Regions from separate parts of the Homo sapiens genome. Here region 1 is linked to region 2. The links come from fine-mapping of genetic effects on gene expression. A gene starts in region 2. The other region holds a variant in brackets. All regions are shown on one strand. Distances are from middle to middle. Region 1 overlaps TMOD1 (tropomodulin 1). Region 2 holds the start of TMOD1 (tropomodulin 1).

The links. PIP is the estimated chance that this variant, and not a neighbour inherited with it, causes the effect. A credible set is the group of variants that fine-mapping cannot tell apart.
Region 1: its variant is the best candidate, but not a certain one, in a credible set for the expression of TMOD1 in monocytes (Fairfax 2014, PIP 0.87).

Annotation. Positions count from the first base shown.
Region 1 is chr9:97,572,422-97,577,790 of GRCh38, forward strand. All of the region lies in intron 8 of TMOD1 (tropomodulin 1), which reads left to right. Among named protein-coding and RNA genes, the nearest start is that of TSTD2, 58 kb to the right of the region's middle. RefSeq lists a silencer at 390-629. The variant T/C (reference allele first, on the strand shown) is at 3,250.
Region 2 is chr9:97,499,423-97,504,791 of GRCh38, forward strand. It overlaps TMOD1 (tropomodulin 1), which reads left to right and starts at 2,244. Exons shown (of 10, transcript NM_003275.4): 1 at 2,244-2,381. RefSeq lists a silencer at 2,061-2,780, an enhancer at 4,167-4,311 and a cis regulatory region at 4,230-4,247.

The sequences.
Region 1 (5,369 bases), 73 kb after region 2:
AGCCAGGAGCTATGGCCTCCAGGACCAGGGGGCTGTGGGGAGGCGCTCCTGCCTAACTGGAGTTGGGTCCGGCAGGGGAAGGGCTGAAGGCAGGTCTCAGGGAGGGGGCTCTGCTGACTCAGGCTCAGGAGGAGGCCACCTGTGCCTCCCCTTCAGGTGCCCCAGCCCCAGGCTGGGGGGAGGCAGGGCAGTGTGACACAGAGGAGGTGGCGAGTGGCATTTGATTTATTCCTTTATTCCTCATTCCTGGTTAGTCACCGAGGTCCTTGGAGACGGGAGCTTTTTCCTCAGTCCTGTGCTTATAACCTGTGGCAGCAAGTCTCTGTCCTTCTTTCTCCTTATACGGCCAGGGAAAGGGACTTGGGGAGTTCTGCCCAGGGTGACACGGAGCTGGCTCAGGACACAGTTTGGGAACCAGGACTTTGAAGCTGTTTGTTGACTCAAATAGTCTCTCTATCTCCAAGCAATGTTCTGTTGCCACCTGTGGTTGCGCCAAGACCATGGTGAATTGGGAAAGGGCAGAGCAGACCCCAGAGCCAGAAGGCACTGAGACAACATCTAGCCCAGTCCTCCTTTCACAAGCGGGGAAACTGAGGATGAGAGAAGGGATGGGACTAGCCTGAGGCCACAGGCCAGGTTAGTGGCAGAGCTCGGTTGGAGCTGCAGTATCCTGGCTGCACTGATGGATGGATGGGAGAAACCCTGTGGGCCCCGAGGGAGCCTGCAGGCCCGGCCCAGGCCAAGCAGGCCATCTCCACACACGGCTTCTGTGCTGCTCTCACCAAACTCTCCAAACTCCCCACAGAGCTGCTCTTCCCCAGGACCCCCAGGGCACCAGGGACCCTGCTCCCCAGGCCAGACAAGGCCTGGGGTGAGTCCCACAAATGAGAATATGTATAATGTCTGGGGTAGTGGCCAGATTCCCCACTTTTTATTCCAATATTTGACAATGAGGATGTGCTTAATATTTTGAAGAGAAGTTAAAGTAGATGGATTGTGCTGTCTTGTTTTCCCAGATTGGATGATTTGTGTCTGGCTTTTTTTACTCAACGTTGCGATTGTATCAGTTTTTTGTAGCTGTGTAACAAATTATCCCCAAATATAGCAACTTAAACAGCCTCAGAATCCTGGCATAAAACAATAAACATGTATTAACTCACCATTTCTGAGGGCCAGGAATCCAGGAGCAGTGTGGCTGGCTGACTTCGCCCAGAGTGCATGATCTGAGGTGGAGAAACTGCTTCCACCATGGCTCCCTCACAGCGTGGGCAGGAGACCTCAGCACCTTACCGTGTGCACCCGGCCTAGGGCTGTTGGAGTGTCCTCACAATATGGCAGCTAACTTCTCCCAGAGTGAGTGAGCCAAGTCAGAGAAAAAAGAAAGCCTCAGATGCCTTTTATGACCCAGCCTCGGAAGTTACACAAAGTCATTTCCACCATATTCTGTTTATTAAAAGTGAGTCACAAAGCACAACCCACACTCAAGGGGAGAGAAATCAGACACCACTTTTTGGAGGGGGGAGGATCAAAGAATTTTGCAGATATTAAGTCATCACAGTAAGAATTATCTATATTATTTTGTGTCACAGGAGTTGACCAGAAAGACCTCTGTAACTGAGAGGTGACAGCATGCTGGCAGCCCTCACAGCCCTCCCTCGCTCTCGGCGCCTCCTCAGCCTTGGCGCCCACTCTGGCCGCGCTTGTGGAGCCCTTCAGCCCGCCGCTGCACTGTGGGAGCCCCTTTCTGGGCTGGGCAAGGCCAGAGCCGGCTCCCTCAGCTTGCGGGGAGGTGTGGAGGGAGAGGCGCCGGCGGGAACCAGGGCTGTGCGCGGCGCTTGCGGGCCAGCGCGTGTTCCGGGTGGGCGTGCTCTCGGCGGGCCCCGCACTCGGAGCGGCCGGCCGACCCCGCCGGCTCCGGGCAGTGAGGGGCTTAGCACCTGGGCCAGCAGCTGCTGTGCTCGACTTCTCGCCGGGCCTTAGCTGCCTCCCCACGGGGCAGGGCTCGGGACCTGCAGCCCGCCATGCCTGAGCTTCCCCCACGCCGTGGTCTCCTGAGCGGCCCGAACCTCCCCGACAAGCGCCGCCCCCTGCTCCACGGCGCCCAGTCCCATCAACCACCCAAGGGCTGAGGAGTGCGGGCGCAGGGCGCGGGACTGGCAGGCAGCTCCACCTGCGGCCCCGGTGCAGGATCCACTGGGTGAAGCCAGCTGGGCTCCTGAGTCTGGTGGGGACTTGGAGAATCTTTATGTCTGGCTAAGGGATGGCAAATCCACCAATCAGCACTCTGTATCTAGCTCAAGGTTTGTAAACACACCAATCAGCACCCTGTGTCTAGCTCAGGGTTTGCAAATGCACCAATTGACACCTGTATCTAGCTACTCTGGTGGGGACATGGAGAACTTTTGTGTCCACACTCTGTATCTAGCTAATCTAGTGGGGAGGTGGAGAACTTTTGTGTCTAGCTCAGGGATTGTAAACGCACCAGTCAGCACCCTGTCAAAACAGACCAACCAGCTCTCTATAAAATGGACCAGTCGGCTCTCTGTAAAATGGACCAATCAGCAGGATATGGGTGGGGCCAGATAAGAGAATAAAAGCAGGCTGCCGGATAACGCAGTGGCAACCCGCTCGGGTCCACTTCCGCACTGTGGAAACTTTGTTCTTTCTCTGTTTGCCATAAATCTTGCCACTGCTCACTCTTTGGGTCCACACTGCCTTTATGAGTTGTAACACTCACCGCGAAGGTCTGCAGCTTCACTCCTGAAGCCATCGAGACCACGAACCCACTGGGAGGAACAAACAACTCCAGAGGCTCCGCCTTAAGAGCTGTAACACTCACCGCGAAGGCCTGCAGCTTCACTCCTGATCCAGGAGACCACAAACCCACCGGAAGGAAGAAACTCCTAACACATCCGAACATCAGAAGGAACAAACTCCGGACACACCGCCTTTAAGAACTATAACACTCACCTCGAGGGTCCGCGGCTTCATTCTTGCAGTCAGTGAGACCAAGAACCCACCAATTCCGGACACATAACTAGCAAAGCTACCTCAGGATGGAGCAGGTATCTCAAAGGGGGAGGAGTTCCCATCCTGGGGGTGTGTAAACAGCTGGGAGATGGAGGGAATTTTAATGTCAGTTAGGGTCTGGGACTCTGGAGTTGGATAACCTAATTCCCAGGCCTCCTTTCTGTTGTGTTTTGAAGTATTCCCAGTTGTCCATATCATCTGGGAATGGCCAGAATTGGC[T/C]CCGTCAAATGTCCAAAGTGAGATTCTTGATGTTCCTGTTGCGTCTGGCCAGAAAGGGAGCCTCAGAGCCACCGGCTCCAGGATACACCTTGTAACACCTAAGGTGTTGGTTGGTAATTTTGTTCAAGAGCAAATCTGATCTCTTTCTCATCTGATGGGTAATGCTCTGACATGGTAAAGGTGTGAGGACACACAGCTGTCACACACTGCTGAAGGGCATGCCGACTTTTACATCCTTTTGTCAGAGCAGTCTCAATTTTAATTTGAAAGCGCCTATCTTTCAACCTAGCAGTTTTGATTTCCGTAGGAAGCCTGAGGAATACCCCCTCCCTCCCCTGCCACTGCCACGTTGTTCGTAACACGAAAAAACAGAAGTAACCTAAATATCCATCTACACCAGGGCGTCCCGTGAAGCCAATAGAAGGAATAAGGTCATTCTCTACATACTGACTCTGAAAGAGCTCTGCAAAATATTAAATGAAAAAGGTGGGCTAGGCATGACAGCTCATGCCTGTAATCCCAGCACTTTGGGAGGCCAAGGAGGGAGCTCACTAGAGACCAGGAGTTCAAGACCAGCCTGGTCAACATAGCAAGACCCCATCTCTGTAAAAAAAAGTAAAGGAAATTAGCCAGACATGGTGGCACGTGCCTGTAGTCCTAGCTACTTGGGAGGCTGAGCAGGAGGATCACTTGAGCCCAGGAGTCAGAAGCTGTAGTGAGCTATGATTGCACTGCTTTGTGCTGCTGCACTCTAGCCTGGGCAACAGAGTGAGACACAGTCTCCAAAAAAATAAATAAATAAATATTAAAATAAAATGAAAAAGGCAAGTTGCAGAACAGTAAGTATAGTATGAATTCATTTAAACAAGAAACAAGTACCACAAAACAAAACAAATCCCTGTACATTTCTGTCATATACTTCATGCATAGAAACACAACTCATTGGCCATGATGGTTACTTTTTTTTTTTTTTCTTTTTTTGAGACGGAGTCTTGCTCTGTTGCCCAGGCTGGAGTGCAGTGGCACGATCTCGGCTCACTGCAAGCTCCGCCTCCCAGGTTCACGCCATTCTCCTACCTCAGCCTCCCGAGTAGCTGGGACTACAGGTGCCCGCCACCACGTCCAGCTAATTTTTTTTTTTGTATTTTTTAGTAGAGACCGGGTTTCACCATGTTAGCCAGGATGGTCTCGATCTCCTGACCTTGTGATCCGCCCACCTCGGCCTCCCAAATTGCTGGGATTACAGGCGTGAGCCATCGCGCCTGGCCCATGGTGGTTACTTCTACGGAAGGGGGTGGGACTGGGAATAAATCGGGTGAGGGAGACTCTTTCCTTTTACTCAATCTGTGTTAATATCATATGAATTGTTAATAATGTGGTTATATTTATTCACAAGTGGTTTTTTACTTCTCAAGCAAATCTGAAGGAGTATGAGAGTTCTTTCCCAACCATCCTGTCCCTGGCTCTGCTGCCCAGAGACTGTTGCCAGTCCGGGCATGACCAACCCCTTGGTCTCTCCCCCTTTACACACTTTCAGGCACAGGCAGCTCACTACCTTACCAGGCAGTTCCTCAGCGTGTGGACACTTCTAATGGTCAGAGGCATTCCTCCATGCTGAGCCAAACACCATCTGCGTGTAGTTCCTCTCGTCAGTCCTACTTCTGCCTTCTGGTCATTCTCAGAGGCACTTAAGTGAGGTGGAAACCAGCACAGACTCTAGAGCTCGCTGCCTGTATTCAAATCCTGGTCCTGCAACTGACCCATGCTAGGATTTGGGAAAAATTTCTTAATACTTCTGTGCTTCAATTTTTTTTGCCTATAAAATGAAAATAATGAGGATGGGCATAGTGGCTCATGCCTGTAACCCAGCACTTTGGGAGGCTGAGGTGGGTGGATCACTTGAGGTCAGGAGTTCAAGACCAGCCTGGCCAACATGGTAAAACCCCATCTCTACTAAAAATACAAAAATTAGCTGGGCGTGGTGGTGCTACTCAGGAGGCTGAGGCAGGAGCATCGCTTGAACCCAGAAGGCAGAGGTTGCAGCAAGCCAAGATCGTGCTATGCACTCCAGTCTGGGCGACAGAACAAGACTCCATCTCAAAAAATAACATAAAATAAAA
Region 2 (5,369 bases):
CACAGTGGCTCGCGCCTGTAATACCAGCACTTTGGGAGGCTGAGGCGGGAGGATTGCTTGAGCATAGGAGTTTCAGACCAGCCTGGGCAATATAGCAAGTCCCCTATCTCTACAAAAAACATTTTTTTAAATAGCTGGGCATGGTGGCTCATGCCTGTAATCCCAGCACTTTGAGGGGCTGATGTGGGGGTTAAGGGGTTGGCTTGAGCCCAGGAGGTTGAGGCTGCAATGAGCCGTGATCACACCACTTTACTCCAGCCTGGCCAACAAAGCGCAAGACTCTATCTCAAAAACAAAAACAAAAACAAACAAACAAAAAACCTAAACATGAAAGGCTAAGGTGGGAAGATAACATAGGAAGATAACTTTATAACCCAGGAACAGGAAAGAGTTCTTAAACAGGACACAGAGTGCTGCCAATAAGGGAAAAGATTGCCAGACTGTATTTAAGAACACCTGTTTATCAAAATACGTTAATAAGGTGAAAAGGCAAAAGAGTGGAATATAACTGAGGATACACACACCATTGAATCTATTCAATACACAGGACTATCCAGAAGAAAAATGGACAATAAATCTGAACAATTCACAAAACAAATCCAACTGGCCAATAAATATGAAGTGATACTCAACACATTAGGATATAGGGAAATGCAAGTTTGAACCTCAATGAGATACCATTACTCACATATCAGAATTTCTAAAGTGTTTCAATTTTTGTAACTTCAAGTGTTGTTGAAGATGGGAAACTGCACTGTACAATGGTACTATAACTTTGGAAGAGTTCAGGCTTATCTCTGCCGAAGTTGAGGTTAGGCTTTCTCTATCACCCAGCACTTCCAACAGCAGGCTGTGCGCGTGGACAGGAGGATTCTGGCAAGGAATGTTCGCAGCAGCACTATTTGTAATAGCTAAAACCTGGAAACAACCTAAATGCCCATTAATAGTCAAATGGATTTTTTTTTAAACTGTGGCATATTCATACAGTGAAAAACTACAGCTGCATAAAACCACAGATTAACAACAGATTTGAACAAATGAAGACATACTACAGAGGGAAGAAAAAAAACAAGGACATGATCACCGTAAGGGTCAAGAAAGTGATCATCTTTAGAAGGGAGTTGGGACCCAGGAGGGACAGGTTGGCTTCTGGGCTGTAGGCAATGTTCTCTGAGTGACTGGTTGCACAGGTGTTCACGTTGTAAAAAGTCATGAAGCTGCACATTTATTTTGTTTACACATACAACATAACTTATGTTGTATGTTCTTATATGTTCGATTCACAACAAAAATGTTTTAAAATAATCTGAAATATTAGATCACTGCTTATTTTTAAATGTATGGCATATACCCCTTGAAAAGAGCGTTCTCATTGTGAGGACTTTAGAGAAATTCATTTTCTTGAGAAACAAAATTTGGTTAATGAGTGTTTCTCATTAATAATCTATACATCAGGATTAAGAGCTGATTTTATTAAGGTCTACCCTACCAAAAGCTTTCCCATAATAATCCAAAATAAGACGTTTTCCTATTTCTATATAAATTCCTTTGCATGAGACATTTGTTTATTAAAACACTTAAAATTGTATTTGGAATAAACCACCTAAAGTGGTTTGTTCTGAAAAAAAAAAAAAAAAAAAAAAGCCTTTTAAGAACTTGGGTCTTTTTGTTGTGGTCATTTAAAATCAGTATTTTAGACACTCCACTCGCTCTCAGTGTAGAGAGAATGTATTCGATTGCGTGTTGGAACTACGTGTAGACAAAACGATCGCGGTTAAAGCTTGCGGCTCAGAGCCCACCTGGCCGCGCTGCTGGGAAACGGACGGAGCGGCGCTTCAATCAGAGGTGAAGGTGCAGCAGCTGCTTAGCTGGCTTTGGTCCATCACTTCTGGGGACTTCAGATTCTCAAAATCTTAAATTCTAAACCCCACAGGAATGCAAATCTGCCCACCTTTTCCCACATAACTCTACCGTCGCTCAAACTCTTCCTGGTACCAGCGGGGAAGCGGAGGAGACCCAGGCAGGGGCCCGCGCTCGCTCGGCTGCAGCCCGACTCCCCTGCGCTCCCGGCCCAGGGCCGCGTCCCGACGGGGAAGTGCGCTGCGCCCGGGCGCCCCCGAGTGGAGGGGGGGGGAAGGAGGGAGCCGGCGGCGGGCGGGGCGGGGCGCGGTGACAGCCGAGCCGGGCCCGCCCCTGGCTCCCACCCCCGAGCCCACAGCTCCCGCCCGCCCGCGGCCGCCCGGGAGCTCGTCCAGCCCCGCGCTGCGCTCGCCCGCCCGCTGCCCGCCGGAGCACCGCGGCCTCCGCCCGCGTCCATCTGCCCGCCGCCCGCGCCTGTTCCGCAGCCCGCGTCCGCGCCGGCCCCACAGCTCTGCGTCCGGGTAAGCCCCCACCCCGCCTGGGGTCCCCCTCGCGCTCGCGGGGCTCCCTGCCCCCGCTCCGGGGCCTCAGCCATATCTGGGCAAAATATTCAGCTGTCGCCGCCGCCGCCAAGAGGGACTGAGCGTGGCTCCCTCTATAAATAGCTGCCGCCTCGGGTTGCCTCTGGGGCTAGGGAGCCCGGGTCTCGGGGTTCCGAGCCCAGCGCTCCCGTCCCCGCCTCCCCGCGCGCGCAGCCCTGGCCAGGGCGCCCTCCGCTCTGGACCTCCGCACCGCGTCTGTGAACGCGAGAAGGACCCGGGGTTCTGGAGGAGACGGCGCCCCGGGCTGGGGTCCTGGCGGAGGGGCGCCCCCGCCACCCGCAGGACTCCAGCGCGGCGGGGCTCTGAGCCCGCGGGGTGCTCAGCTGGGTACAGGTGCCAGCCGGAGCTGGGCTCGGGGGCGCGGCCTCTTCTCCGCCTGCAAGAGTCTGGGGGTGGGAGTGGGGGAGTAAAGGCTCGACTGGACGTGGATCCCAGGTTCGCGCTGAGAGTGTTTGGGGCAGGTGAAGTTTCCCAAACTGGGAGAGACAAGGTTTAAAGCACCACGACACGCGCTACGCGGCCAAGTGGAGCTGGAAAGAGCTTGGAGGCGGGAGCCCCAGGTTGTCGCCGGCTCTCGGCATGGCCTTGGCAATCCCCCTCTTGTTTCTGGATCTCAGTCTCCCATTTGTAGGGGCGAGGTTTGGTAGCCGCGATGGAGCTGGGAGCCCAAGCCCTGAGAGCTGCAGGGCGCGCTCTTGGCCGCCTGCGCTCCCCACACCTGTTCACCCTCTCCGGGCCTGGGACGCTGGGGTCCCAGCCGCGCACATGCGGAGACGCTGCAGAAATCGGAGACTGACTGCCCCAGACTCGATCGTATCCTGGGACTCACTAAGGCCGTCGGATATCCTAAGCCGTACAACCCTAGGAAGTGCACTTTTGGGGTGCCTATGGGCATCTCTCTGCTCCGTAGCCGGCAAAGCAGCCTGTGAGCCACGCAGCTTCAGATGCGATGAGCTGGGCAGGGGCAGTGGTTCCAGTACAGCCGCTCCCTGGCCACAGTTTCCCGGTCTATATCGGGCCTATGATGCGTCCTCCAACCTGCGCAGCGCCGCCCCCTCCTACACCCTTCACCCACCGCTACTATTACAGACCCTGTCTCCAGCCCTCGCCCTATGCCCTCAGACTCTCGGAGACGACCTGGCCCAAGCTCCTCCGTGTCTGAATCGCAGAACCAGACCCTGAACCCAGGTGCTGGGCCCTCAGCGTGAGAACCCCTAGGGCCCCCACCCCATCTTTCTTCCAGAGGTGACTGCCATTTTGTCCTCTGTGCAGGGCCGCAGAGCCCCCTGCTCAAGGTCACACAGGGCCGGTCACGCCAGAAGTTCTGCAGTCTCCCAGCCTTTCCCATCTCTTTCCGCACCCTTCCCACTGCTCAGGCAGGTCCGGGAGCTCTGGGAGCACCCGATCAATGCCCCCTCTTCTTGAATCTGCTGCTGTTCTGGACTTTACCTTGTCTGGACAATAGCGCCCTCATCCTGAAGTTTCCTTTTTGCTTCTACTTTACTTTCTGTTATGTGTTTTTTTCTAAAGCCATCTCAAAGACTTACAGAAAAAAGAATTAACGGGAAATGGAGTCAGATAATAAAGTTTCCATCAGTTAGAGCCACACAACCAACAGGCAGAGTGAAAACAAGAATACTGTCACTTTGGTGTATTATCTTTAATGAGCTAGTCTTACAAACCCGTGTTTTAGAGAGTCATTGACCCTTGAGTTTCTCCCAGCCTAAGATGAAAGCCAGTGTCCTCTAAAAATAGCCTCCGCCCCACCTTATCAGGGTCTCACACCTTCTCCCTCCTTCAGGGTAGGGCGTTTTCTTGCAGCTCAGCAAAAACAGAAAACACAAAGTAGGTGTGGCAGCTCTGAGCAATGGGAGGTGGACTGGCCTGGAGGTTAGGATATCTGGCTCCAGCCCCAACTCTGCCACCCACTCAGAGGAACCTTGAGCAATGAGGGGGCAGACAAGGTGGTCTCTAGTGGACCTGGAGTGGAGAGGGCTTAGAGTCTTCCTTGGAAGCCTTTCTAGCATGACCCATCCTGTAAGGAGGAGCTGGGGAAGGAGTGAGAGACAGTGGCTTTCCCAGGTGCCAAGGGAGGACAGAGGTGGGCAGTGTCACTTGCTGTGGAGAGACAGGAGTAGGGGGATGAGGACTGGGAAAAGACCATCAGGATTGGCAGGGATCATGAGTGACTTAGACCAGGGTATTGCAGCAGGCTCAAAAAATGAGATCTGCCAGTGACCCAGCCTGTCTGAGCCTCGTTTTCTCCTCATACAATGGAGACAACAATAGCCCCATTTCATAGGGGCTGCTTGTGAGAATTAAGTGAGATGATTCAGGGCAAGCCCTCAGCCCAGAGCCTGATATTGCAATGATAGTATTCGTTGTGGTGAGGGGGAAAGGCAGGAGCTAACAGGAGCTGAAGAAGTTCTCCACTTCTTCAGGCTGTAGGCTGAAGAAGGCTCTCAACAGAGCCAGCAACTCTTTCTAAAAGCTTGGATGAGAAAGGAAGGGAGAGGGAAGGTAGCAGGAACTGAGGACAAGGAACAGAAGGGAGGCAGGCATTCTAGGATAAAGAGTATGGCAAGTAGTGAGAAGAACCCAGGAGAGGGGAGAGAGTTAAAGGGGAATCTAAAAGGTGTGCCCATAATGAGGATTGGGGACCTTCCTTAGTGACTTGCAGAATGTCACAGACTCTGCAGGTGGCCTTCATCCCCTGGAATGAGCAAAAAAAGGTAAAACGAAGCAGATCCTGGCTCAGACCCCTATGTCTCTGGCAGACCAGTATCTGCGATGGAGGATGGTGATGGGCTGTGAAGAGTGTTTTGACCCTGCTCTGGGGCCTCATAACCTTGGCTTATTTATTTCTGAAATGACATCATCTATCGATGACTCCTGCTGAGCCCGGTC